7 linked regions of the Homo sapiens genome follow. The protein of the gene in region 7 purifies or fractionates together with the protein of the main gene of each other region. This does not show direct contact. Each region holds a gene or a part of one and is shown on either strand. Other genes may lie near its edges. The genes, in order: RAB11A, ADPGK, RAB14, PTTG1IP, AMFR, GDA and SLC13A2.

What was found.
Region 1: the proteins of SLC13A2 (region 7) and RAB11A purify together in Homo sapiens (affinity purification with mass spectrometry; one large-scale study listed by BioGRID and IntAct). This does not show direct contact.
Region 2: the proteins of SLC13A2 (region 7) and ADPGK purify together in Homo sapiens (affinity purification with mass spectrometry; one large-scale study listed by BioGRID and IntAct). This does not show direct contact.
Region 3: the proteins of SLC13A2 (region 7) and RAB14 purify together in Homo sapiens (affinity purification with mass spectrometry; one large-scale study listed by BioGRID and IntAct). This does not show direct contact.
Region 4: the proteins of SLC13A2 (region 7) and PTTG1IP purify together in Homo sapiens (affinity purification with mass spectrometry; one large-scale study listed by BioGRID and IntAct). This does not show direct contact.
Region 5: the proteins of SLC13A2 (region 7) and AMFR purify together in Homo sapiens (affinity purification with mass spectrometry; one large-scale study listed by BioGRID and IntAct). This does not show direct contact.
Region 6: the proteins of SLC13A2 (region 7) and GDA purify together in Homo sapiens (affinity purification with mass spectrometry; one large-scale study listed by BioGRID and IntAct). This does not show direct contact.

The regions. Positions count from the first base shown.
Region 1 is NC_000015.10:65,886,491-65,889,489, forward strand, and holds part of RAB11A (ras-related protein Rab-11A), read left to right. Parts: intron 1-1,210; coding exon 1,211-1,350; 3' UTR 1,351-2,999. UniProt on the Homo sapiens protein: The small GTPases Rab are key regulators of intracellular membrane trafficking, from the formation of transport vesicles to their fusion with membranes.
Region 2 is NC_000015.10:72,773,320-72,777,649, reverse strand, and holds part of ADPGK (ADP-dependent glucokinase isoform 4 precursor), read left to right. Parts: intron 1-2,552; coding exon 2,553-2,778; intron 2,779-4,330. UniProt on the Homo sapiens protein: Catalyzes the phosphorylation of D-glucose to D-glucose 6-phosphate using ADP as the phosphate donor. GDP and CDP can replace ADP, but with reduced efficiency.
Region 3 is NC_000009.12:121,191,541-121,195,870, reverse strand, and holds part of RAB14 (ras-related protein Rab-14), read left to right. Parts: intron 1-2,451; 5' UTR 2,452-2,458; coding exon 2,459-2,510; intron 2,511-3,646; coding exon 3,647-3,700; intron 3,701-4,330.
Region 4 is NC_000021.9:44,859,750-44,864,079, reverse strand, and holds part of PTTG1IP (pituitary tumor-transforming gene 1 protein-interacting protein isoform 1 precursor), read left to right. Parts: exon of another isoform or gene 1-112; intron 113-210; exon of another isoform or gene 211-287; intron 288-2,808; coding exon 2,809-2,917; intron 2,918-4,330. UniProt on the Homo sapiens protein: May facilitate PTTG1 nuclear translocation.
Region 5 is NC_000016.10:56,405,046-56,408,545, reverse strand, and holds part of AMFR (E3 ubiquitin-protein ligase AMFR), read left to right. Parts: intron 1-429; coding exon 430-582; intron 583-3,301; coding exon 3,302-3,342; intron 3,343-3,500. UniProt on the Homo sapiens protein: E3 ubiquitin-protein ligase that mediates the polyubiquitination of lysine and cysteine residues on target proteins, such as CD3D, CYP3A4, CFTR, INSIG1, SOAT2/ACAT2 and APOB for proteasomal degradation.
Region 6 is NC_000009.12:72,207,980-72,212,309, reverse strand, and holds part of GDA (guanine deaminase), read right to left. Parts: intron 4,249-4,330; exon of another isoform or gene 4,139-4,248; intron 4,086-4,138; coding exon of another isoform or gene 3,972-4,085; intron 1,624-3,971; coding exon 1,536-1,623; intron 1-1,535. UniProt on the Homo sapiens protein: Catalyzes the hydrolytic deamination of guanine, producing xanthine and ammonia.
Region 7 is NC_000017.11:28,493,646-28,497,975, reverse strand, and holds the end of SLC13A2 (solute carrier family 13 member 2), read right to left. Parts: coding exon 4,187-4,330; intron 3,960-4,186; coding exon 3,871-3,959; intron 3,786-3,870; coding exon of another isoform or gene 3,703-3,785; exon of another isoform or gene 3,603-3,702; intron 3,589-3,602; coding exon of another isoform or gene 3,586-3,588; coding exon 3,464-3,585; intron 2,322-3,463; coding exon 2,160-2,321; intron 1,527-2,159; coding exon 1,389-1,526; intron 878-1,388; coding exon 707-877; 3' UTR 195-706; downstream 1-194. UniProt on the Homo sapiens protein: Low-affinity sodium-dicarboxylate cotransporter, that mediates the entry of citric acid cycle intermediates, such as succinate, citrate, fumarate and alpha-ketoglutarate (2-oxoglutarate) into the small intestine and renal proximal tubule.

The sequences.
Region 1 (2,999 bases), on a different chromosome or scaffold from region 7:
AGGCTAATTGTGTTAATTTGACACATTTTTAGAATTATCTTGCTTTTTGAGAGTAGTGTTTTTGGAGGGACAACTGGGAGAGTAAACAAAAATAAGGTACATTCTCTGTTCTTAAGGACTTTATAATCTAGTCACAGGGAACAACTTTTAGGCAGTGCAGTATAAGACCAAACGTGTTACATACAGATACTTATTGTGGAGGAATTTAGTGACATTCATGCGGTTATTTATTTATCACAACACATGTTATATGTTGCAGTACAGCAGTAAGACAGACACAGTTTTGATCCTTACAGAGTTTAACACTTAGTAAAAGAGGCAGACACTAAATTATTTTTGATAAGTGTCATGAAATAAAAATAGAGTTTACATATAACATCTTAAGTTGCCTATTTTGTATCATTCTTTAATTACAATTTAAGTTTTGTTCAGGAGGTCACTGATAAACACATTATCTTTTTTTCCCTTCCAAGAATCGTTTGGGATTTTAGCATGTTTGTTAAGATGTACTCTGCCGAATGCGTCTGATAGTGCAAATTTATTTATTTTTTGTGTGGTACAATGTCATTGTGTGTAGGCAATTTTTGTTTGTTTGTTTGTTTTTTGGGGTAAAGGTAGACTGAAAATACTCTTATGGTTTACTTTGAATCTAAGTCCATAAACAATGTAATGCTATTGGCTTACCTCTTTTTTTTTTTTTTGAGACCGAGTCTTGCTCTGTTGTCTAGGCTGGAGTGCAGTGGCACGATCTCATCTCACGACAACCTCCGCCTCCCGGGTTCAAGTGATTCTCCTGCCTCAGCCTCCCGAGTAGCTGGGATTACAGGCACCCACCATCATGCTTGGCTAATTTTTGTATTTTTGTAGAGACAGGGTTTCACCATGTTGGTCAGGCTGGTCTTGAACTCCTGACCTCAGGTGATCTGCCTGGCCTGGTTTACCTCTTTAAACAAAGATTTATTTGACTGGTGAACCTTTCCCTCTGACATGGAAAAACCTTTGTTTCTTTTCTTACCCAAAGGGCAATTGTTAAAATAAAGGGTTGAATCTAATCAGTGGCTGTTTGAAAATAAAACTTTAAATTTATGTATTCTCTGTTCAGTTTCCTTAGGGACTTTGATGCAAATATATCTCCTACCTTTATGTATCTTTTATCCTAACTATGATAGGTTTATTCACACTAAGTATTGTGGTTTCTTTTTTCCTTCAGAGATTTACCGCATTGTTTCTCAGAAGCAAATGTCAGACAGACGCGAAAATGACATGTCTCCAAGCAACAATGTGGTTCCTATTCATGTTCCACCAACCACTGAAAACAAGCCAAAGGTGCAGTGCTGTCAGAACATCTAAGGCATTTCTCTTCTCCCCTAGAAGGCTGTGTATAGTCCATTTCCCAGGTCTGAGATTTAAATATATTTGTAATTCTTGTGTCACTTTTGTGTTTTATTACTTCATACTTATGAATTTTTCCATGTCCTAAGTCTTTTGATTTTAGCTTTATAAAATCATCCACTTGTCCCGAATGACTGCAGCTTTTTTTCATGCTATGGCTTCACTAGCCTTAGTTTAATAAACTGAATGTTTGGATTCCTCAGTTATTGTTTACTTTTCATCATGGAAGCCTGTCACTGTATGTAGGACATAATAGAACTTGATCACTTGAAGCTCAGACCTATTGGTCTTGATCAAATCAAACTAAGAAGACCTTAGAAATAAGCTACCATTTTGCCACAGAGCAGCTTATAGGTAATACACTCTTCTCTCAGTGCAGTGTACATTTCCACAAATCTAAGAATTGCCCTATAAACATAGCAGGATTTTGAGAGCTTGAAAATTTTCCATTATTCTGGACATGAATTTCTAAAATGCCTTAATAGGTTTATGTAGTTGAGTAAATTTTGTTTTTTAATTTTTGTAAGCATCAAAGTTGATTAGAGAGGGGGGCACTTTTTCTGGAGAATTCTCTTAGTAAACACAAAAGATTGTTACGGTTTCATTAGTAGTATGGTTGTGGGGCCATAAGTTAAACAGTGCTGCCTGGTAGGCTGGGAACTGAAGAGACTTGTGGTATTCCATCTCGGGTGCCTCTGTTGGCAATGATCAGGCAGCCCAAAAGATTTAAATGATCTATAATAATTTCCAAGCGGTAGATTATGTGGCATTTTATTGCTCAGGCAATAATTGGTTTAATGCTGGTAGTGTCAAATTTTGAAGTGTTAATTTTGTCTTAGAACCTTCCAGTAAGTGAAATACAACCTAGTTTTATCACCATATCCACCAGCAGGCATGGATAATTATTTTAACAATGCTAATATTTGAGTTTTGCAGTATATTATAGAATATAGTCCAGTTAAATCTTTGGTTTCAGTATGTCTGAAGAGTACAGTGAGAGGTTAATTTCTGCTCAAGTGGTACCACTTAAAGGCATGTATTCTTTTAGTATGTAAAATGAAATAGTACCTTGAGTTTAAATAGAATGCATTTAGGCATTGTAGAGATCTGAAATAGTTTTCTTCCACTACATTGTTGAAATCAATGAAGCAATTAGTTTCTCATTCAGAAATGTGCACACTAATATTTAGTTTTGCTTTCTCGTGGATAATATTAAGCACTTACTCTGCAGTTTCCTGGAAGTTGTGTCAACTGCAGTGATACTATTCAGGATGGTGGGAAATCCCCAAAAATATGTATGTGTGGGCTTGCTTAGATTACTATATTTCATAGTTAATCTTTTGTCTCTTGCGGTGCTCATGATGTGTGGGGCACACGGAAGGCATTGCTGTAGTCAGTCATTTTGGTTTTCTTCTATAGCCATTTTATTATTTTAGTGTATTAGTTATGAAGATAATATTATCTATTTGTAAATTGCTACTTTGTATTTTATGCATGCTCTGTAATTTGATTTTTTTTTAGTTATTGATTTGGATTATATTCACATTCTAATAAACAGTTATAGGGGGATTATTTCTTATGCTGTCAGATTACATTTTTCCTTTGAG
Region 2 (4,330 bases), on a different chromosome or scaffold from region 7:
CTGGAGTACCATGGCACGATCTCAGCTCACTGCAACCTCCACCTCCCGGGTTCAAGCGATTCTCCTGCCTCAGCCTCCCAAGTAGCTGGGATTACAGGTGTCCACCACCACACCCAGCTAATTTTTGTGTTTTCATTAGAGATGGAGTTTCACCATCTTGGCCAGGCTGGTCTCAAACTCCTGACCTCATGATCCACCTGCCTCGGTCTCCCAAAGTGCTGGGATTACAGGCTTGAGGGTGTTTATAGTTTTTGAAGTAGTTATTTTCAAAGACAGGTTTCCCTCCATTTCTGAACCTTTACTCTTCAGACTCGGGACCCAAATCCATTTGGATACAATTTTTTTAGACTGGGCTGTCTGGAGGAAATGGTATCCCTCCTTACTCAAGCCCTCACTGTCTGAAACTTAGGAACCTACTGGCGTCTGAGAGCTACAGATACTTGTATTCCTGTTGATTCTACCAATCTAATGTTGCATTCATTAGAAATAAAGGGCACCATGTCTGAGGTAAAATTGAGACCAGTTTGCAAGGTGTGTTTGGTTTCTTAACATTGAAGGTTGTGAAAGGAAAGATTTTAAACATATCTTTAAGCAACTGCCACGTGCATGTCCAGAATGGCCCCTTCTGTGTGTGTCATGGAGAAGTTCTGGCTTATATTTTCAGTGTTTCTTTACTAGAAATCATCCCTCTTTTAAAGAGAAGGGCCAAATACAGTAGCTAGATGTTTTATGCACTGAAAGGCATAGTAAATCTTAGGTTATGCTTCTCCAGTTGACCAGAGTCATTATGTGTGTCTTGAACAAGAAACTGAGTATTTAAATGCTATTTGATAGGCAAAACTCCTTTCAAAACATGAATCCCTAGGGGAAGAATTAATAAAAAGGACCCTTATAATGAGGATGCAGTCTCTTTGTGTCTTGAGGGAGGATGTCTCTTCCTTGCCCTTGTAAATCTTCCTTAAGTGATGTAAATAATATCTAGTCTGCATACAAACCTTTTTAAAGTTATGTCATTTTAAAAATTCTAAAAGGAATACAAGCATGTTAAAAGTAGAAATATACCTGGTAAAATTCCTCTTCATCCCAGTCTCATTCCTCTTCATTTTTGAAAGAGACTAAAAGGGAAATACAACTATGTATTTTACACCAAAATCTCATCCATTGGGACATTTTTATTAATGAGTTTACCTTGTGGTTTCAGAGCTGCTCAGAATTAACTCTGAAGCCCAGTCACCCGTATCACTAGGGGTGGTCTCAGTTTGCCGGCTGGGAGCTGCCTGTGTGGTAATCCAACCTCACTGGCCAGAATGACATCCCAATAGGCAGAGGCAGGAATAAAGATGACCATGATAGGGGTAGGGGCGGGAAGACCTCATCTAGCTACCTTAATTATTTGAACGTTCTCTTTAAAAGAGGGATGACTTAGCAAAGAAACCCTGAAAATGTAAGACAGACTTTCTCCATACACACATAGGAGAGGTCATGCCAGACAACCTTAGTACAAGTTGAGCATCCAGAATGCTCTGAAATCCAAAACTCTGGGGCACTGACATGATGCCACTGATGTATATTAAGTACTTATATGTGAAAATTCCACCCACACGTAAGGAATAGAAACTTTATTTCATGCACAAAAGTATTTAAAACATTGTATAAAGTTACCTTCAGGCTGTATGTATAAAGTATATATGAAATGTGTTTGGACTTGGGTTGCATTCCCAAGATATCTCATGTATATGTAAATATTCCAAAATCGGAAACACTCTGATCTCAAGCACTTCAGATAAGGGATTCAACCTGTACTTTATAATTTCCATCGAGACAACCAGGAGTGGCAGGTCTTTAACGTTCATGGGTCAGTCCTGTGAACACTGGCCAAAGGGTGAGTTCTTAAAATGCTGCAGGTGTGCCTAAGTCTGTAAAACACCACTAAATTCTAAGAGGCAGGGTTTCAGCTGGGAGTACTCAGGCATTTAGGAATTTATTGTATCTTACCATCCTCATTTGTTTTTAGAGGGAAGATGCCTGATACCTAGCCTTTGACTGAAACACATATTTTGCTTACTCTGCGCCAATTGCTGTTCCTAAGTATACATTCACTTATTTAATCTTAACCATAGCTCTATGAGTTAAATGCTCATATTATTGCCATTTTGTGGATGAGGAAACCGAGGCACAGAGAAATTAGTGACTTGCCCAAGTCACACGGCCAGCATGAATCCTGTTTGGCTCTGCCAGCGTTTTTCTCAGAAATGTTACATTTTTGTTACAGTAGCTTTGTTCTGAAATGCTAAGCACCTATCTTCTCACTTTGTAACTAGTGTAAAAGTTTGCCAAATTATTGAAGAGTCCTGTGTTCTGATGCTAATACATAAATCCAGTTAAAGTAATTTTTCTCCTGCCATGTGCTGTTTACTTCCCAATTCAGGTTTCAGACCTACTTCCTGTTTTTTCTGTTGAATAAGGTTCTGAGAAACATTTTCCTTTTGTTAAATGCAAAATGGCTACTTGGTGCTTCTGCTGCTTTCACACAGTTTTTTTCCTCCTTCTAGAGTCAATGCATGTGTTGATGTGGTGCTCTCAGGGGTGAAGCTCTTGCAGGCACTTGGCCTTAGTCCTGGGAATGGGAAAGATCACAGCATTCTGCATTCAAGGAATGATCTGGAAGAAGCCTTCATTCACTTCATGGGGAAGGGAGCAGCTGCTGAGCGCTTCTTCAGTGATAAGGAAACTTTTCACGACATTGCCCAGGTTGCATCAGAGTTCCCAGGAGCCCAGGTCTGTTTGGTTCAGCAATAGTAAATTAAGGGTGGAAAAAGATGCCTTTTTAATATGGTTCCTAGAAGCAAGCAAGCAACTTTTCATTCCAGTTTGAAGAGGAGGGGAGCAAAATCACCCCTGGTTGAAAACTGTGGGTCTAGGTTGATGGTTCTCAGACTTGAGCATGTGTCAGAATCATTTGGAGAGGCTGTTGAAACACAGATTTCTGGGCCTACTACCAGAGTTCAGATTCAGTAGATGTGGGATGGGACCCAAGAATTTACCTTTCCAGCAAGTTTCCTGGTTGATCCTGTAGGTCTGAGAACCTCCTTTTGAGAACCACTGGTCTGCAAGGTAGAACCTGTCGAAGTTAGAACCTTAGTGGTTTCCAAGTTCACCTGGTGATTATATACAAAGCCCTGCATGGTCCAGGCACTTCCTGGAGGTTCACGTGGAATAAGAGGCAGTGCTGGGGCTGGAGACCCAACCATGGCTCTTCCTACCTCACCCCAGTATGCCTGCTCCTACATGTACCCTCATGCCTCTTGAGGCTGAGTTTTGGTTGGTTGGTTATCTCCCATGTCTTGCCCCCACCCCATTCTTCCTCCTCATTTAAACCTCCCTTTGGCTGGGCACCCAGTCTGGTTTGGTAGTTCTAGCCAGGGAAGCTCTTAATGCCATTTTTAATTGGCACCTTTCACAGGCAAACCTTTGTGACTACTTTTATTTTGATGACTTAAGATTTTAGGCCGGGCACAGTGGCTCACGCCTGTAATCCCAGCACTTTGGGAGGCTGAGGCAGGTGGATTGCTTGAGCCCAGGAGTTTGAGACCAGCCTGGGCAACATGGTGAAACCCTGTCTCTACAAAAAATACAAAAAATTAGCTGGGCATGGTGGCATGTGCCTGTGGGAGGATCACCTGAGCCCGGGAGGTCAAGGCTGCAGTGAACCATGACCGTGCCACTTCACTCCAGTCTGGGCAACAGGGTGTGACCCTGTCTCAAAAAAATTTTAAAAATAAGTTTTTTGTCTTCGAAGCTGCCTATTTGAACATTAGAAATGGACATAGGCATTACCTAGCTGAGTTTCTAAAGGTGACAGCAAGTTAAGATTTCAGTTATCATTTTGACAACTGGGATCAGTAGTGAGATTCTTATCTCTTATGAGAGAATCTCGATAGTTCTAACATGATGAGTTCACTGCTCAAAAGTCTTTATGATTACGGAATTTAAACCACCAGTTTGATTTCTCTTCTCTCTTGATTCTGCCTTTATTTCTTGATGAAAAAAATTTTTACAGCAACTTGATCTAGCTTTGTGATGGTCCAGGTTATTTCTTAACATTGTAAAACCCCTTTCACTAGAGGAGTGCCTTTTCATACTTCCTTATAGTTTAAGGCAGGTTGATAAACATTATATGAAAATTCTGAAATCCACTTTGTAGATATCTTACTATTTTCCCAAGATTTTTTTTAGTAAATTCTAACTATCGTGGTTGAATAAAACATTAAGGCTGACATGTTAAAGGGCCAAATTTCAGCCTACATATCACAGAAAGTTTTAAATTATC
Region 3 (4,330 bases), on a different chromosome or scaffold from region 7:
GAATATATTTAAATCTAGACAGTATCTTCTTAGAATAAGAAAGGGAAGACCTGTTGTGAGTGTTGGTGGCTACAGTGTTAAATGTTTTCTGCCTTTGTTTACTGAAATTAGTAAGTTTGAGTAGTTTTCCTTTAATTCTGCTTTTATGGTTTTTATTTGTAATTTTTAAAGAAACGAGCAAGAAAAATGTGTGGTGTGGTGAGACAGAGCCCTGGTATTAAATCCGAAATAGTGATCATTTCTTTTATTTGGAAATAGTTTCTACTATATGAATGTTTGTAATTTTAAGATACATTTTCAAAATTAGTTATCTCACATTTAATGAATGTATGATAATTAGCAGGTACACAAATTAGTACAACTAAAATTGGGTCACAATTTTATGATAGTCTTTAAAGCATTTGAAGTAGAAATTTGGGATTGTTAGAAGTCATAGCTTTAACATAAAATAGAAGGAGCAAAGTATGTACAGCTACAACCTTTAGTTAGAAGAGGGAAAGAAATTAGGAAAATCAAGGGAGAAGAGCACAGAAGAGACAGTAATTTGAAGGTGACTAAGTGATTACTTTTACCCAGGTTTGAATGGGGAAAGAATTTAGAAGAATTAAAAATTGATTAGAAGAGTCGGAAGAATTCAAGTTAAGAAGTTAATAATCTTTAAATATTTTTAATGTAAGAGATTACTTTTCCCCCTTGTGTTTGGCATCTGGTTCAGAGATCAGGTAAATAATCCAGACCAGTTTTAGTCTCAGGACCAAGTTCATTCTTAAAAGTTTTGAGTTCCTAGTGCCTGGAAAAGGGAATAAAGTTGTTGTGATGTTCAGAATCAGTTAATCTAACTAGAAAAACTCCCTTTCCTGAAAGAACTGGTTAAGGGAGTTTTCTGTGATGCAGGAGACTGATTATAAATGTGTTAGAACATGCCAAACTGGAATGGGTAACAAGGCTTCTACTTTCACTAAATGTAATACAGATAGCTAAGTGAGAAGACTGTAGTGTGTGGAAGTGATTAATACTTTACTGTAATTAACAACTTCCTCTTCCCTTATAATAATACACTTGTTTTAAATATATATTCTTTCTACGGGTTCAATGTTGTTATATAGAACTTTTGCTTGAAATATGGTATATAGTAAGGTGATAATTTCAGTAAATAAATTTCTCCAGTCATATTAAATGTCTGGCTTGTGTAATGTGACATTGACAGAAACACTAAAAGCCAGGCTTAAAAATACTGTAAGTCAGATTTTTTTAAATGGGTGAAATCTTTATATGTATAAATAATTTTTGTCTTAAGCTGAAAGCTGGTTTGAGAATAAACTTTATTGAAAGTTATTACCAGTTTTACAGTTCAGCCCCTTGTTTCTCTCTAGGACCTAGCACGTGTCTTACACATTCAGATAATTCATTTGAATAAATTGGAAAGTTTTTTGTTTTCTTTTTAAGTAGAAGAGAAATTAGAATTCTTTAGGTTAAGTCTATTTGAGGGTAAGAAATGGGCTGTGATCTTTTGAAATATCTTCTAATACACAAGCTTTCAAATTTTGCAACCATAAGTACAATTTTATGACATTATTTCTTTCAGTCCCTAGAATAGTGTATGGGAAGCACTTACTATGTTGTTAATCTGGCTGGGCACAGTGGCTCATGCCTGTAATCCTAGCACTTTGGGAGACTGAGATGGGAGGGACGCTTAAGGCCAGGAGTTCAAGACCCAAGACCAGCCTGGTCTTCAAAAAATGTGTGTGTGTGTGTGTGTGTGTGTGTGTGTGTGTGAGTGATAATCTGCAAGTCCTGTATTAGGTTGAGCTATATGAAAATGCCAATAAACTTTGACTTGAAAAATCTATAGGAAGAACAGTTTCATGTGATTCAGTCTAGTTCCAACATTGATTTGGAAATCATACGATTGCTCTTTGCGCTGCTAACTGTTGATTTAAAGTAGAGTAAAAACGTTGTTTTGTGTTTATAAATTAAGTGGTTCCTTTATATACCATTCTGTTTAATATCAGAGTTCTGAACAAGTAGATCATTAGTAACTTACTTGATCAGTTAACAGGGAAGGGGACTTTAAGGGGAGAAGAGACTATAGTGATGTTTAACTTAAATTTATAAAGATTTTTTTGTTTGACAATTTTCAGATTAATACTTATTGGATTTTTTTTAAATTATACTTTTAAGTTCTAGTGGATATTAAGTGAAATATTGGAGTTGTGGTATAAATGGTTTCTTATATTTCTGTGGATAGCACATGAGAATGTGTAAGCATCATTCATCCAAGAGAATTTGTGTATTTGATCAGTTTGTGAAATGCAGTTTTATTTTGACTTACTGTAACCAACATTTGTTTGTATTCAGTGTCCTTTTCTACCTTTAAAGGATATCAGTCATCCGTTTGAATTACTTGTATATGCTTTCCTTCTGAAGTAACAGAGATTTCTTTGTTTTTAGTGCCACCATGGCAACTGCACCATACAACTACTCTTACATCTTTAAATATATTATTATTGGTAAGTTTATTTAACTTACACTCTTGTTCCCAAAAGAAGGTTAACATACAAAATATTTATATGTTAATACTTAAACAGTACCACTTCAGGACTGAGTGATTTTCTTACTGTAAAACTAAAACTCCTTTTATAAGATTTATTTTTGCATTAGCAATGCAGCTTTTGCATTGTGGCCATGGATATTTCTGTGGTACAGTGCTGGTGGGTACCTTGTGAAGTGATGTTCATTGTTCTTGAGGGCTGCTTGAAAGCTTTTTGATGCTAGGAAGTATCAGTGTTTCAAGGAGTGCAGAAACATTCCTAAAATACTGTGAAAGCTCTCAGATTCCCCTGGGTTTCTGTTATAAGGAAAAATTGGTAGAGAATATTGTTTGATTCCAAATCAATTGTGTAATATATATAAAATATAGTATTTTTCTTAATTGGTGTTTTTTTCCTTAAGTTTCAAGAAGGTTTTGCTCAAATTAAGTCTTAATGCTATTTATCCAAACATAAAACTACATTTGAAAGTACACGTTTTTCAATGAATTGTTCACATTAGAACAGTTTGCTTTCATGTTGAACTTAATGTGTCCTTTCTAATGTTTCCTTCATCAAGGGTTAACATTGCTATAGTACAGTCAGAGATGACATCTTTTCTCCTGGGGTTTTCATGTAATGCAAATTCTTTTCTTTCATAGAATAATACAAGAAGTATAAGACAGGGACCTAGTGAATCAAGCTTCCAGAACTCAGTTTGTTATTTCTGCTTGTTACATGCTACCCCATTTGTCAGTTTTTGAAATTTGTTGCTTTTATGCATGAGTTTAAGGAAAAAAACAAAAGAAAACAAAAACATAAAATTTTGAAACAGCTCAAAGTAAAAAAAATTCCATTAAAAAAATAAGCACTTCCCAGCTGGTGGCTATTTATTAACAGTAATAATTTACAGCCAAATTCTGTCACTGCTAAAGATTGGGAATAATATTCCATTTGTGTCTCACAGTGAAAACTTTTGAATCATTATAAAGTAGGAAAATAAAAATTTGTTAAGTGTCCCAGAAACTTGTGATATGTTATATGGTAAGGAATATAGCGATCATTGCATAAAATTGAGAAATGTAATTGCCACCTGAAACTTCTTTTTTTTTAAACAGGGGACATGGGAGTAGGAAAATCTTGCTTGCTTCATCAATTTACAGAAAAAAAATGTAAGTTCAATACATGAGGTAAACATTAATAGTTTTCTTTATCGCCATGTTTCTACTTTTTAGAAAGTGTCATTTTCAGTATACTTCATGCATTTAAATATAACCTTTCCCTATATTTGTACTTTTTTTAAATGGGTACAGATAAAATGAAATATGCCAGCATATTTTAGGGTTGATTTTTATACACATTATATAATCTGATTTGCTTGTTTTGATTTCTTGATGTTAAAATAATTTTTAAAAATACATAAAATAATGTCAAACTTAATCTTTTTATTCTCTGACTTTCTGTTACAGGAATTGATTGTCTTATTAGGAGAAATTTGCTGCATGTATCATTTGTTAAATAACAGATTTGAAATACTTAAAATGGAATTCTTTCTACTCTTTCTTGGGTGATAGAAGGGACCAATGTGTTGTAACTGATATGCTAAATATAGTTGAAAGTGTTTCTGTATAGTTGAAATTATTTCTTTGACATTTTTGTGCTGCTTACCACAGAGGTTTGATGTAACATTTTATGAAGTGCCCAGAAGTCTGTGTCCTTGTACTGGAGAATGGTGGGTTTAGGTTTTAAGTGGCCTCATTATAAGGAAAGGACTAATAAATTTGTTAATTGGCTTAGACATA
Region 4 (4,330 bases), on a different chromosome or scaffold from region 7:
AATGAGGTTTCATGATATGAGGAGGCCGGGAAAGATGTATTCGATGATTTCTATTCTAAGGCATGAGCCATGTTCTTAAAAACTCTTCTTCCTCCACGAGACCGTAGCGTAGGTTTGAGGAGGCCGGGAAAGATGTATTCGATGATTTCTATTCTAAGGCATGAGCCATGTTCTTAAAAACTCTTCTTCCTCCACGAGACCGTAGCGTAGGTTCGAGACACACCCTGTCAGTTTGTGGGACTTAAGTGGATACTTGCATTTGCTGATTAAAAATTGAAAGACGCTGTTTCTGTGGTTTCAGATCTTGACATTGGTGATGTTGAACCTGCTCTAATGCGCCTGGTCCTGGTGCATTTTCTAGATGGTGCTTCTTTTTAGTCTCTGGATTTTTCTATTGGAAGTCATTTCAGCTTTAAACATAGCTCACTATTGTATGTGGCTTTGTAGCCTAGAGTGCGTTTTTGCCATAGTACCCTGTGTAACCCTCACCACCCTGGGCAGGGTGTGGTGATGACAGCCATCTCGTGGATGAGGCGGCTGAGGGACTTGCCCAGGTCATTGTGGATGGGGCCAGTCCAGAAGGGCTGAAGGCCTGACTCCAGTTCTGAACCCAGACAGGGCGGTGAAGAGGGCCGCTTGCCCTACAGTAGCTCCAGGCGTGTGTGGGTGTGCTCTTGGGCACACAGGAGGTTTCTGGAAGGAGGTGTCAGTGCCTGGGAGGTCTCAAGAGGACCTGCGTGTTGGAGCAGTGGCTATGGTGGGCTGTGTCCACGCTCCTGAGGCCGTGGCGGGCTGTGTGTCTCTGTGTTGCCGAGGCCGTGGCGGGCTGTGTCTCTGCTGCTGAGGCCGTGGTGGGCTGTGTCTCTGCTGCTGAGGCCGTGGTGGGCTGTGTCTCTGCTGCTGAGGCCGTGGTGGGCTGTGTCTCTGCTGCTGAGGCCGTGGTGGGCTGTGTCTCTGTGCTGCTGAGGCCGTGGCGGGCTGTGTGTCTCTGTGTTGCCGAGGCCGTGGCGGGCTGTGTGTCTGTGCTGCTGCCTGAGCTGCTTGCTATGTGCATATTACTTCATCGATCAGAAAAGCAGCACAACCACCAGAGAACACCGTATCCTCCCAGTGCAGTCCTGTGGCTCATGGTACCACTGTCATGGAAAAATGGAAAATCAGACATTTACAACTTGAGCCACTTGAAAAGGGAGGATTAGCCAAAAATCGTTAATTGCAAGCAAAACCCCTGAAATGGAAGATACTCCCAAATGACCAGAATAAACAGGGTTTAACTGTTAATTGTTACATTATGCTGGAAACCACTTAAACACGACACTAAGGTGGTCACTGTATAAGTAGCCCTGGGAAAGAAGGCCCAGGGGACATTGTAATTAATATTTTTTTGTAATAGACTTTTGCCCTAACCTGGGCCAAAAACGCCATGACTTTCTATCCTATTAAAAAGTCAGTAACACTGTTAATGTGGAGATTGGGAGTAACAGGCAGTCTGGACTTGGGTCTGGACTTGGGCTGGCGCATGAGGTGCTGCCGAACGGCAGTTCTTTTTTTTTTCCTTTTGAGACGGAGTTTCACTCTTGTTGCCCAGGCTGGAGTGCAATGGTGCGATCTCGGCTCACCGCAACCTGCGCCTCCTGGGCTCAAGCGATTCTCCTGCCTCAGCCTCTGGAGTAGCTGGGATTACAGGCATGTGCCACCACGCCCGGCTTATTTTGTATTTTTAACAAAGATGGGGTTTCTCCATGTTGGTCAGGCTGATCCCGAACTTCTGACCTCAGGTGATCCGCCCTCCTGGCCTCCCAAAGTGCTGGGATTACAGGCGTGAGCCACCGTGCCTGACCCGAACAGCAGTTCTTTCACCCCTTCCTGTGCCATCTGCCTGCGTGCTAGGCTGTCCCCTGTCACGCTCAGTGCCTGGCTCACAGACCGCTTTCGGGCCTCGTTGTGTACTGCTGTGGCATGGGCTGGGCCCAGCTCTGGGCTCTTACACACACACACACGGGTGTGATGGTGTTGTCTCCACACCACTGCGGCCTCACACCTGACGTTCAAGGGGCTCAGACAAGAGCGTCTATGAGGTTCTCTCCAGCTGTCAGTTTAGGGCGGGCTGAGCCGTAGTTGCATCATCTTTCAAGCTGTGCGACTTAGTGCAGTTGTGAAGGTCAGAGGTAGGAAGCATGGTCCTTGCTACAGATGGTGACCATGCTCACCCAAGTCCATTCAACACAAACTCAGTGAGTGCCTGTGATGGGCCAGGCTGTGTCCTGTGTTCTTGGGAGACTTCAGCCAGTGAAGTGCACAGGTGCCCGGCGTGTGGGGAGGAGAGGTCTACGGAAGCAAACCTCACAGGAGGTGAGGAGGAGGGGGTGGAGGCGGCTGGTTGTGTCCAGTCTGTTGATCGAGGCAGGGCCCATCCAGTCAGTGGGGAGCCACACAGATGTGGGGAGAGTGCTCCAGGCAGAACCGGCAGGCTGAGCTGAGGCTGAGAGCATGAGGTGGGGTTGGCAGCACTCAGGAGGCTGCCAACACAGAGGCCCCGTGGCCTCAGCAGGGTGAGTTGTGGAAGAGGCCTGAGTGACGCGGGCCTTGGATGAGTCCGTGGAGAGCTGACAGGGCTGCTGGCCGCTGTGCTGGGTGTGGACCGAAGGGCGCTGAGGGTGAAGGCAGAGATGAGGCGTTGAGGGGGAGGTTGAGCCTTTACAGCCATCCACAGAGCGATGGCAGCACTGGCGGGCTGTGGGCAGAGCCTGGACAGTTCTTTGGTTTTTCTGTTGTTTCTAATGCTTGCTTAATGTTGGTCTCTTTCAGTGTCTTTGGTGCAACACTAACAAGGCTTGTCTGGACTACCCAGTTACAAGCGTCTTGCCACCGGCTTCCCTTTGTAAATTGAGCTCTGCACGCTGGGGAGTTTGTTGGGGTAAGTCATTGTTTTCATTTGCTGCTTGCAAAATCGATGCTTCTTTGAAAATAGTAGTATGGGCCGGGCGCGGTGGCTCACGTCTGTAATCCCAGCACTTTGGGAGGCGGAGGCGGGTGGATCAAGAGGTCAGGAGATTGAGACCATCCTGGCTAACATGGTGAAGCCCCGTCTCTATTAAAAATACAAAAATTAGGTGGGCGTGGTGGCATGCACTTGTAATCCCAGCTACTTGGGAGGCTGAGACAGGAGAATTGCTTGAACCCGGGAGGCGGAGTTTGCAGTGAGCCGAGATCGTGCCACTGCACTCCAGCCTGGCGACAGAGCGAGACTGTCTCAAAAAAAAAAGAAAATAGTATTATGTGCTCAGTTAGCAGAAGTTGCTAGAAAATGTGCTGCCAGTAGCTCTGTGACTCCCAGGGAGAGGTTGGGAAGCCAGGGGTGATCTGCTGACCGGGAAAGCAGCCCTGGGGAACCTGGAGGACCTCCTTCAAGGTGGTCAGCCCCAGCACTGAGCTCTATCTCACCACGTTACAGAAGGTGTGGGGAAAAGGGTGAGTTTGAAGGCAACGTGTTTGACTTCTCTGCTCAGTATGTTTTGTTCATGTGTCACCCCTGAAACTCACCTGTGAATTCCCCTAGAATCTCCAGTTTTCCCAGCTTAAGAATCCCTGCTTGCGTAGACAGCCCTCTTTTTTTGTGTGCGTATCTTTGTATATTTGATTTTGGAGGCGTTTTTAAATTAAGGAAATCAGCTCTTGTGAGATTCAAGTTGTTTTCTAGTTTGCCTTTATTTATTTATTTATTTATTTTTGAGACGGGCTGGAGTGCAATGGCACTATCTTGGCTCACTGCAAGCTCCGCCTCCCAGGTTCACGCCATTCTCCTGCCTCAGCCTCCTGAGTAGCTGGGACTACAGGTGCCCGCCACCACGTCCGGCTAATTTCTTGTATTTTTTAGTAGAGACGGGGTTTCACTGTGTTAGCCAGGATGGTCTCGATCTCCTGACCTCATGATCTGCCCACCTCAGCCTCCCAAAGTGCTGGGATTACAGGCGTGAGCCACTGCGCCCAGCCCCGTAGTTTGCCTTTTAAATCAGTTTGTGGTGTGTTTTGTAACCTAGAACTCATTATTATGTAGTTGAATTTATTAATCTTTTAGGCTTCAGGTTTTGGGGTAATACATAGGGTTCCTAAACTTTGTAAAGAAGCAATATTTTCTTAAGGTGTTTTGATGATTCTTTTTGTTTATTTGCATCTTGGATCCCTCTGCAACTTACGTCTTACTTACCACTCTTCTAATTGATTTCCATTTCAAAATCTATCAGCCTCCATCTGAAACAACTTGTTGCTGGTGTTGAGGCCCTAGAGAATTCAAAAGTTTGTGTGGTGGTGGTGGTTGTAGTGTGGGATG
Region 5 (3,500 bases), on a different chromosome or scaffold from region 7:
CAATTGTGCTAGCCCTAATAGACTAGGAATGCCAATTTCAGAGAGGAGGACTAGAGCAAGATTGAGAAAGAAACAGAACAGAACAGGCACTGTCCTGAGTCCTGTTGAAGGTGAGAGGAGAGAGTTGTATACCCTCGGAACATTGCTTCTAGAGGTTTATAATCCCAGTGCTAGGAGGATCTTTGAGAGTAAGGGATGAAAATATAATGCATATTGTTATACTCAGTAAATTAAATGACACGGATCTCTAAATATCACCTCATGCTCATATTTGGGTTATTGGAGAATAGGACCATATAGTAATGGGATGCTTTTCTGTGCTTAGCACAGAACCCTAAGCAGAGAAGCCAAGATTGACCTTGAATTTCTCAGTGAAGTTTAACACTTCCATGAAGAAGAATGAGCAGTTTCCTACTGTGTGCATTTCAGCTTTCCTTCTCGCCCACCACGCCGATGAGCAGCCACGGTCGAGTCCTGTCCCTGTTGGTTGCCATGCTGCTTTCCTGCTGTGGACTGGCGGCCGTCTGCTCCATCACCGGCTACACCCACGGAATGCACACCTTGGCTTTCATGGCTGCAGAGGTGAGATACTGGATGCAGGACTTGCTCAGATTGTATTTCTGTCTGTTTTCAAGGAAGCTGGATGTTTGACAAGTTATTTTCACCCATGAAATGACAGGTGGATATTTGGTCTTTCATTTTAACAAGCATTTCAGTTCCTTTTTGTGTGTTGGGTACTGGTACTGAATGCTTTTGTGTGGTATTTTATGTAACTCTTTCTTTACGTAGGGTATAAAGATTTTACAAAATAATGAATAAACTGTACTCATCATTTTGAAGGAAAAATCTGGTCTATTCATGAATATTTTAAGATTTAAAAATTTTTCACTCTTTTAAACCTTTCTGAAAATACCAATTTCTGTTCAGTAGAAATAAAAATTCTCCAGCCTGGCCAATATGGTGAAACCCTGTCTCTACTAAAAATACAAAAAAAAAATTAGTTGGGCGTGGTGGCGCACGTCTGTAGTCCCACCTGCTTGGGAAGCTGAGGCAGGAGAATTGCTTGAACCCGGGAGGCGGAGGTTGCAGTGAGCAGACATTGCGCCACTGCACTCCAGCCTGGGTGACAGAGCGAGACTCCATCTCAAAAAAAAAAAGAAATAAAAATTGTTTGTATGTCCTTATATTTAATGGCTATATTTGCCTTTTCTTCAGGCCAAAGGCAAAATACTTTTATCTTACCCATAATTAGTATTATTAATTAAAAAATGAGATATTAGATAAACTGAAGCTAATTGGCTAATATCAAAACACTACATTTGAACTACTCATTGGGAATTTGGTAGAGCAGAGTTAAAGTTTATTTCTGTTTGATAGCATTCATTTTTGAGTACATTTAGTAGTGTAAGTAAAATTAGAAAAGAAACATTTAAATACATAATGTTAATTATCATATTATAATATTGTAATTAAAATACAATAGTCCTAATATAAATAATAAGATATGTAATCTTAGGTGAATACTTCTGTATATGAAAAATATACAACCGTATTTCGTCTTGACAGAAAATCTGTTGAAAAATCCATTTACACTGACTTATTTGCTTTAGATTTATTGCAAAGTTAGAATGATACTTATGTTTGCCTTTTTTTGATTCTCTAACTTTCAACTAATATAATATTATCCAAACTTTGAAAAGGGTATACCTAAAAATAAGCACATTTAACTTAGGCCCGTCAGCTCATACTATAGTATATACTTTTATTTTAGCTTGTTACTGTTTATTCTTTTAAGATAATTTATCATATTACAGATTTGATATTTTAAACTAAATCATTTCTTACATTCATAGTGTTTCTCTCTCCTGTAAAATATTTTTCACTTACAAATGGGAATTTAATCTAAAACATAAATAATGTAATAGTTTTATTCTACTAGATTAAGAGGACTTTTTTTCTTAATGAAAAATATCTTTTTTTTTTTTTTTTTTTTGAGACAAGGTGTCACTCTGTTGCCCGGGCTGGAGTGCAGTTGCTTACTGCAACTTCCACCTTGTGGGCTCAAGTGATCCTCTCATTTCCTTAGTAGCTGGGACCACAGGCATGAACCACCATGCCTGGCTAATTTTTGATTTTTTTGTAGAGATGGGGTTTTGCCATGTTACCAGGCTGGTCTTGAACTCCTGAGATCAAGCAGTCGGCCTGCCTCGACCTCCCAAAGTGCTGGGATTACAGGTGTGAGCCACTGTACCTGGCCGTCAATTTCTGTAATAAAAAAAATACCCTTCAAGACCAGCCTAGCCAACATAGCAAGACCTTGTCTCTACAAAAAAAAAAAAAAAAGCCATGAGAGACTTATTTTGTCCCTCTCCTCTCCTCCCCTCTCCTCTCTCCTCTCCTCTCTCCTCTCCTCTCTCCCCTCTCCCCCCTCCCCTCCCCCCTCTCCCCCTCTCCCCCCTCTCCCCCCTCCCCCTCCTCTCTCTCCCCTCTCCTCCCCTCCCCCCTCCCCTCTCCCCTCTCCCCTTCCACTTCTTCCCCTTCCCCTTCCCTTCTGACAGGGTCTGGGGTCTGGCTCTCTCACCCAGGCTGGAGTGCTGTGGTGCGATCTCTGCTTACTGCAGCCTCCACCTCCCAGGTTCAATCCATCCTTCCACCTCTGCCTCCCAAGTAGCTGGGACTACTGGCACGTGCCACCATGCCCACCTAATTTTTGTATTTTTTGTAGAGATGGGGTTTCACCATGTTGCCCAGGCTGGTTTTGAACTCCTAAGCTTGAGCAATCCTCCTGCCTCGGTCTCCCAAAGTGCTGGGATTAAAGGTGTGATGTGGCTGGCCTTATTTTGCTTTTGATTGCTTTCGTTCTTTTTTCTGCTGGTGGACAAAGGGAGTGCACAAAGCACTAGGGAGAGAGCAGGTCCTCGTGTCTAGGATAGCAGTACCTGAACTATACTTGGAGTTACAGCATCACCCTTCTAAGTAATCAGTGATAGTGACTTAATGCTGTGTGAAATAGAATTGATGGTCAGACTACCAGGGTAAACCTCAAGATTGTAGGGGGATTCCTGGGGGGTAGGTGTAATTGGTTGTCACCTATTAACAGGACTTTTCCTCAATAAAAGTTGGGTTTCTAGGTCATAAAAATATTTTACAGAAATTTGAAGCAGAGAAAATAAAATAATGGGTAAACTTGAACAATCTGCTTTTTAATTGAACTGAGAAATGTTTGTCTTTTATCATTTTATAAAAAGTTTGGCCTGAGCAATGCTACATTTTACTAAAAAGAAAATATCCTTTTTTATAGTCTCTTCTTGTGACAGTGAGGACTGCTCATGTGATTTTACGGTGAGTGAAATTGGGGAGGGAGGTGATGGAGGCCTACTCATACAGTTGATTTTAAGATGTAGCAGGTATGAAATATATAAAAATCGGACTAAATTACAACATGGTTAAACCAAATTCAGTAGTAACAGTAAATTACTAAGGTGTTTTCTCTCTTCATT
Region 6 (4,330 bases), on a different chromosome or scaffold from region 7:
AGGGTTTCACCATGTTAGCCAGGATGGTCTCAATCTCCCGACCTCATGATCCGCCCGCCTCGGCCTCCGAAAGTGCCAGGATTACAGGCATTAACCACCGCGCCTGGCCATACTATTCTTAACTGAAACAATGCCAATATTATCTGTGAGGAATTTTACGCAGTCTTACTAGCAGCTCTCAGCACTAGAACCTAGTCCTCATCAAAGGTGCTGGAAGAATTCTATTTCAGCAAGAAAGCTGAGGCTATATGGGACAATGGTAATTGTTTTTACAGTGTCTCCATCTCTGTCATAAGAGATTTTTAAAAACCTTTCTGCCTCTCTCCTTCCCCTGTAATTCATTTAGATAACTGGCCATTAGATTAATCTTCCTTAAAATACCACTTTCATCACATCACTCACACCTGGACTCAGAACCTTTTTTGAGTCTTTGGTGCATATTTGAGCTCTTCTACAATGTGAACCCTCCCATCTGCCTACCCTCTTCTCCCACTGCCCCCAGGCGATGAATCCACTCCTCTAGTTAAACTACTGTGGTCCCTGCATCCACTATTGACACTCCTGTTCCCATACCTGTGTCCTTCCCCTATCTAGAAGACAGTTTGTCCTCTCCTCATCTTGTCTTTACTTCAAAGCCCAGTTTAAAGGACCCTTTCATAAAGCCTTCCCAGATGTCGTAGTTCTGGGTTCTCTTTGCCTTCTCTGAAGACTGTAGTATCTATTTTCAGAGTCACCCATTAGGTCAGGTCTTTTGCATAAGCAAACAGTGGCATCAGTGTATCAGCCAACAGTATTTACTGAGCACCTGCTATGTGCCAGGTACTGTGCTGGGTACAAGTTTTGGAATCATCAACCCGAATCCAGAATCAGCTCTTCTTACTAGCTGTGCAACCCTGGGCATGTTACTTATCCTCTCTGAGCGTCAGTCTAACCATCTGTAACATGAGGACATCAGTAACCACTTCAGAAGGCTGTTTGCTGCTGAACTAATTCTTCCAGAGTGCTTTGCACAATGCTAGACGTCTAGTAACAGCACCATAGTTGTTACTAAGGTTAGTGATCAATGGTGTAGGTATTCTGTCTGGCTTCTCAAGGGCAGAGACTATTTTTTATCTCATTGCGTTTCCAGCATCTAGCACAGTGCCCTGACTCTAGCCAATAGCCACCATGTATCTGCTGATATAAGAAACTATTACCACAACTAGAATTAGTAAAGTTTCCCTAAAAAGCCCTAAATTAATACACAAAATTCAGACTCATATATATCATTCTGTAACCAAAAATTGTAAGTAAATAATCAGAGTACTTAGAAAATAGAAAACACTCTATGATACAGTTTTCTATTTTCTAAGTACTTTAGAAAATTTCCTAAGGGCCACAGTGACATATAGACACGTAATTACTTGCAAAAAATGTAATGCTCATGTTCTAGCAATTAAAAGGCAGGTCTGCCCAAAAGTACATATAAGTTGTTTGCCACGATGGTCTGGCTGTCTTTGCTTGAGGTGCCCATAAATCATGCTTCATTTGCTCACCTGTAATGTCGGCAAGGAGCAGAGATGAGTCAGTGTGAATTGTTGCAAAGTAACAAGCTGTGGTTGTTCCATTCTTTAGTGTTCTCCTCTAAAAATAAATCACAAAAACCGCGAATCACGTGTGCTCAGAAAAGTCACATGGTACATCCAGAGGAAAACAGAATTTTAGTTTTTAATTTTAAAATGTTTTTATTTAAAGGTATGCCATCTTGATGTAGAGTACAGTTAGGTAAATGGCAAAAGGTATTTATATTCCAAAAGTTAGCTGGAGGAGAAGCTGATACTTCTGATTTTTTCTCGATTCACACAGTTCTGTGCTTCAGAATTCATTAAAATGTGATACTAATGAATTCCTTCTTTCTTAGGATTGTTTAAGGATATCCAAATTTTATTGCATCTGGGAGTACATAAATAAGTTTTTCTTCTACTACAGAATAAAAATATTCAGCCAGACTTTAGCTCAACCTGGAAGGTTAATCACATATATCTATCTCCTTTCCTTCGCAAACTACAACAAACATGACAGTAAAGGAGTACAAACGTTATTAACCCACAAGAAGAACATGAGAGGAGAGACATGAGCAGAGAAAACATTTCAATATCTTCTTGGAAGACAAAAAACATGGACGAGAACCTGGAAGCAACTTGGAAAGAAGGAGAGAAGTGTGTGGGTTTTAGCAGGGGACTGGCTGGAAGTCTATGCAGGTATGATTAAACCCTGGCAGGAACCTTGTTGAAATCAGCCAACCACCCTTAACTTCTTCCTTATAAGAGAGATTTACTCTTTATAGAACCTGGATAGTATTTAGAGGGTACAAGCTCCAAAAGAGAAGGTAAAGCAGAGGTTTAAGTGAAAATCTGGCTGACCTCAAGGGCACTCAGTCATTTTCCCCAGAATACCACGTGTACTACTCCCACAACTCCTGGCAGGGGACTAAACGATTATTTTCTAGAGAAAATGAATGGCTCTAAAAGAAAGATGTCTTCACAGTGACGTTTGGGACCCAAATTCACTGCCTTCACTACTCATCCTATAATGAAGTTACCATCAACAAGTGATACCTCCACCCAGAAATTCCAGTCAGCACCTTATAGCATCACAGTATGAATGTATGTCCAGGGTTTGATAGGCATTGGAGGGAATCTATTATCAAAAAGATAAGGAGGGGGAGAAAGAATCTGGAAAAAATCTTAGAGGAAACATAATCTATAAGGTCAGAAAAAAGCTCAGTTAAAAAAAACAACTATGACTCACATCCTCAAAGAAATAAAACACACTATTGCACCCACAAAACAAGAACAGAATGCTATGAAAATCAGAATGCAGGAGCTCTCCAAAAGTAAAAATATTATAAATGAAATGTGGAAGCCAGTAGGAGGGTTGTAGGATAAATTACAAGAGAATTGCTCAGGAAAAGGAAAAGATGAAAATCAAAGGTGAGAACATAAGAAAATTAGGCTCAATCTAGGCAATCCAACATTTAGAATAAGAAATCTAAATTTTTTTAAATAAATGGAAGGGACAAAAATATGAAAAATAATATTCATCTCCAAAATTAAAATCCTCATAGAATTGTCAGCACAGGGAATAAAAAGAGAACCCAAAGTAAGGCATATAATTGTGAGATATTAAGTTCGTAAGTACAGAAAAGATGCTAAAAACTCCAGGAAAAAAAAAAAAACTGGTCACAGATAAATGACAGGACTCACAACGACATTGGATTTCTCACTAACAATGCTGGAAGCAGAACAATGCCTTCAAATTCAACTCATATATATCATTCTGTAACCAAAAATCCTAAGTAAATAATTAAAGTACTTAGAAAATAGAAAACGCTCTATTATATAGGTTTCTATTTTCTAAGTACTTTAGAAAATTTTCTAAGGGCCACAGTGATACACAGACAATTAAGTACTTGCAAAAAATGCAATGCTCATGTTCTAGCAATTAAAAAGGAGGTCTTCCCACAAGTACATATAAGTTGTTTGTCACAACAGGAGTTATTTTTAACATATAATTTTATACCTTGGTAAATTATCAATCAAGTGTGAAGGTAGCATAGAAATATGATTAAGTACCGAAGGACTTGAAAATTTTACTCTCCATGAACTCTTTCTTAGGAAGCTTTTAGAAACTGTCTTTTAGTAAAACACAAGAGTAATCCAAAGTAATTCCTGGATCCAGGGAGTGGGCATTAAACGCAGGAAAGAGGCAAAGAGAATGCCAAGATTACAGTAGTGCTACAGAGAATGCTGACCAGAAACAAGAGAATGGGAGGAGGTGAGAAGATCTTCAAGAAAGAAAATGGAACGGATATTGCCTGACCTGTCTGAGCACTTGGAAAAAGGACTAGTGGATTGAATACTTTGGGGCATATCTTTAGCAGAAGCTTTTAAATGCAGAGGAAAACCCTCCAGACAGTGGCTCTTGCTTACGTTTTGCCTGTTATTAGCTACGTGACCTTGAGAAGGTTGCTTACATTCCATGTTTCCTCCTTTGTGAAAAAACAGGGTTTTCTTGACTAGTACAGACATCAGAAGCTCAAGTGTCTGCAGGATTGAAATAGTTTGGAGTTAGGATAATAGAAATGAACATGCCGTACCTTAGACAGTAGCCTCTAATTAGATCCAGTGTGTTCCATTTTTTGTTGTTGTTGTTATTTTGGGTTTTGTTTTTTGAGACAGGGTCTTGCTCTGGAGTGCAGAGGTGCCATCACACATCACAGCTCACTGTAACCTTGAATTCTAGGGATCAAGAGAGCCTTCCACCTCAGCCTCCCAAGTAGCAGGGACTA
Region 7 (4,330 bases):
TAGGTGGCTGCGCCCACTCTGATGGGCCTTGGCAGGGATGCCCGGCCATTACCTTCCCCCCTGGGTGGGAGGGGTGCCAAGGGGGCTGCATATAGGACAAAGGCCAGGCCCCCTCCTTCTGGACTCCCCCAACCTGGGGTCTGAACCACATTGGGGACTAGCCCTGGAGAGTGCCATGAAAAACCATCCCAGACTTTACTGAAAAAGACTTTAATGTGACTTTAACAGCCCAGAGGCTGTTCCCGTGGCAGCTGCTGGCAGGCCCTCCTCCCAGGCCACTCCAAGCCTGAATTTCAATAAATACAGTGCAAGTAAGTCTGGTCACTAAGCTGGGGATACCAAGACCTGGGGCACCAGAGAGGGCATGTTGTATTGTCTGTGAACACACACGTGTGCACTGTCCAACATACATACCTAGGATCATGTGCATGCACACAGCCCCCCTCAGATAGCCTCACGTCACACACCCCTCACATCCATGCAGGCGCACACATATGCGCACACACACATGCACACACCTTTTATTCCAGCACATAGGAAACTGAGCATACACCCCTTCCTTACAGACACGCAAGAGATTATGTACACACGTGCCTTTCAGCCTTTGGCCTGGAGCTTGGAGCTTGGAGCTTGGGGTGTCCCCTCCGGGCTCAGAGGAGTGGGAATGGGGTGGGTCTTCCTGGGCATGGCCAGGCTGTGCCCCAGCCTAGGGGCTTGGTGTGGTGGTGTTGGCCAGGCTTGGCAGGCACTGGGCTGTGGTGTTGGACTGTGCCCAGGAGGGGAAAGAGTGCAGGCTGAAGAGGGGGATGCCCCAGCTGTTGATGGCCAGTGCGATGATCAGGACTCCAATGATGTTGAGGAGGAATCCTGCCCGGGCCTGGTGTGAGGAGAGTCCATTTGGCTAAGCAGGGACTGGGCTGGACTGCCCCCAAGTCCCCAGGTGTTTGGGGGTGCACAGGAGCCCTCCTACCAGCAAAATTCTCTCTGGGAAGTCCTCCCGTTGGTCTAACCTGCAGCATAGCCAATGCCTTTGCCCCTTGCTTTACTCCCTGTGCTAACAGGGGAAAGGGGCGCTCCTCCTGAGCTTCCAGGGCCCTGGGCTTGTTCTCTCTGAGCTCATCTCCCTGAGTGTGGGTGCCTGGCACCTTGGAGCCTTCCCCATGTTCCCCACCCACTTCCCTCCCTCTCACATAGCCTGGGGCTGGCAGGGCCTGAAGATGCCACCACTGAGAGGTCATGTCCCAACCTCCCCAACTGCACCTTCATTCCAGATGAGGACCCGCTCAACTCTGAGACTCTCAGTGGCTTTAAGCTGCTTTGTGGTTCACTAAGATGAAAAGTCAGAGCAGGAAGGAGGGATGAGGCATTCAGGCCTCCCTGCCACTTACCATATCCAACACTTTGAGGTCCCCGAAAGAGAAGACGATGGCATTGGGCGGGGTGGCCACAGGCAACATGAAGGCCAGGGAGGTGGCCAGAGTGCAGGGGAGCATGACGTAGAGAGGGTGGAGGCAGATGGCCTGGGCCTGGAGTGGGAGGCAGTGGCGCAGAGCTGAACTTGGTCCCCAAGCCAGAGGGAGGGGCATGGCCCCCAATTCTCCTGCTTCTCTGGGGAACAACCCCTGTACCCTAATACACTCTCTGGTCATGAGCCCACCTCTTCTCCCAGAAGGCACTGGGTGACCTGGAAGGGCCTCTTGACCTCTCTGGAGGGAATGAGTGTGCTGCCCTGCCTTGTGGGGTGTGGTGAGGGGAGGGGCCCATAAAACTGATCTCAAAGGGGCTCCGGGGGTGTCATCAAAGGCTGCAGGAACACGCCTGGGGAGGAAGGGGCTTGGGACGCTTCGGGGAGCAATTTCACCCCGTCACCTCAGGAATGACCAGAACAGGGACTGGGGTGGGGAGGTGGGTGAGGCCACCAGGATCCCCATCAGGATACTCCAGGGGTGACATCATGAGGGACGGGGTGAGTCAGGGGCCAAAGCGCCTTGGGGCCCAAGGTGGCTCAAGAGCCTGGAGAAGGATGGAAACTCAGGGGTCCTCTTCAGGAAAAGGAAAAGAGGAGGTGCAAAGACAGGATACTCTGCCCAGCAGGCAGAACCCCTGGTGGGGCAGGCAGGCGGGCTGCCTGGAGGAGGTGTTTCTGAGGGCCAGCTCACCATGGAGGCTAGGATGGGCAGGAAGATCGTAGTGGTGGCCACGTTGCTAGTGCACTCGGTGAAGGTGGCCACCAGGAGGGAGAGGATGATGGCAATGGCTGGAGCTGGCACACTCTGCAGTGGGGTCAGCTTGTTTCCCAGCCACTCTGACAGGCCCGATCGCTGTGGGCAGAGGAGGATGGCATGTGAGAGGCAAGGCTGCCTGGGCCCCCAAGTCTTCTGCCGAGGCTCTATGAGGCTCCTGCTCCTGCTAACATCTCCCTGGTATTCAGAGTCAAAGACAGCTCTAAAGGGATGATAGGACCCAGCTAAGACCAAGGGGTGCCCTTTCCTGCTCTTGAAGAACAGCTGGGTGTGGGAAGAAGGGGCAGATGAGAAATTAGGAGGGGGCCAAAGGGCCTTCTTGGGAAATTTGGGGCTTGGTGGGAGCAAAAATCTTTGACCGCACTGACTCCTGCCTTCCTGACCTCTCTCAGGAGGTCCCTGGACAACCTTAGCCCTCTTCCTGCCCCTTCCAGTCCAGTGGCTTGGGGCAGAGGGAACCTTGCTCCTGGCAGGGAGGGAAAGTTGGGGGAGGACCCTGACAGAGGCTGCAAGAGGCTAATGGGAGGACAGGGACAGTCCACAGGGTCAGAAGAGCTCCGAGGTCTTGCCTTCCCACGTCTGGAATGCCAGGCTGTAAGGTGGGACTTAATCTCGCTCAGTGGGGCCAGCGCCTAGCACAGGACTGGGCACAGTCAGTGGATGAACATGCCACAGACCCAGGAGTCCCCTGCACCGATCCCTGACCTGGGCAGCCACCTTCTGTTTGAGCCAGAACACGGAGGCCCAGGGATGCCGTGTCAGGGATTTCCCTCTTTTGGATGGAGGCTCTGGGGAAAGATGTTCTGGTCCCCAGAGCCTGGGTGGGTGTGATCATGGTGCCCCCTGGTGGCTGCGGAGGGCAGACCGCGTCAACACAACCCCCAATTACTTTGGTGCTGATGCTACTGTGTGCTCTGGCAGCGGGCAAAGGGCTGGGGTGGGATGGCATTTGTCTCTGAGAACAGGCTCTGCCCACCAGAGAATCCTGCCTTCCCTTGGACTTTGAGAACTGAACAAAGAGGTCCCTAGGGCTTGTGTTTCTTCCTCCCACATGAGGGCTCTAACCTAAGTCTTCCCAGCTGCTGCAAAGGCTCTGCCTACCCGAGAGGCTCCTACGTGGGGACCAGGTCTCCCCTCTGTGGGACAGAAGCAGGGCCCCCTCTCTCCCTGCCACAGAGACACCCTCACACAGGCTGAGGAGGGGGCTGGGGGCCTCTCACCTCACTGCCCTTGGCCAGGGCATAGCCACCACCCAGCAATAACACGATATTCCACGGCATCTTCTGGTTCACCGTCTTCCAGTCGAGGAGGCCAAGAGGGGCCTTCAGCTTCCCTGGGTTTTCTACTTCCCAAGCAGAGAAGGATGGGTCACCAAAGAACAAACAGGCCTTTCCCCTCTCCATTTGCGGGCTCCCTGTGTGGGTCCCTTTTGGAGCTTAACGCGTGCAGGAGGGGACCCTCAGTTCTGCAACATCTCAACTTTGTCTCCGAGTCCCTGTGCCCTTGGCAAGTCGCTCCAGCCTTTCTGGGCTTTGCCTACTCCTGCCAAGTGTGGTGGAAGGTACATTACATACTTGAAGGCAGGGGCTGCCCGGAGACCCTTCCCTGCCCCAGTCCAGGTGCTTACCTGGGTCCTGGGTCAGCCCTGGGAACTTGGAGGGTATGATGAACATAATTATGCCGATGAAGATGGCCACTGTCCCATCGGACACCATGCTGTTGGTGGAGGGGGCGCGGGGAGGGCTGGGTTAGCCGCTTGGGGTTGCTCAGGGCCACAGGGTGGAGGGTGGTGGAGATGAGCCTCTCCCATAGACAAGCCTGGGGAACCTTCATCCCCCACCAAGTGTTACCTCCTGTTCTGCAATGGGGGCCCTATACCCTTCCCTCCTTCCCGAGCATGTGAGCCCCAGATGTGTCCTCCTCCCAACCCCTGCAACTCTCACCTCTCCCCCTTGGCATTGGGAAAAGCCAAATTGCCCCAGCCAAGAAAAAAGCCCGGCTCCCGGGTGAACCAGAGCAGCACCAGGATGACGAATAGGATGCTGATGGCCTTTTCTGCAAAGGTCATGGGGCCCAGCAGCCTGTGC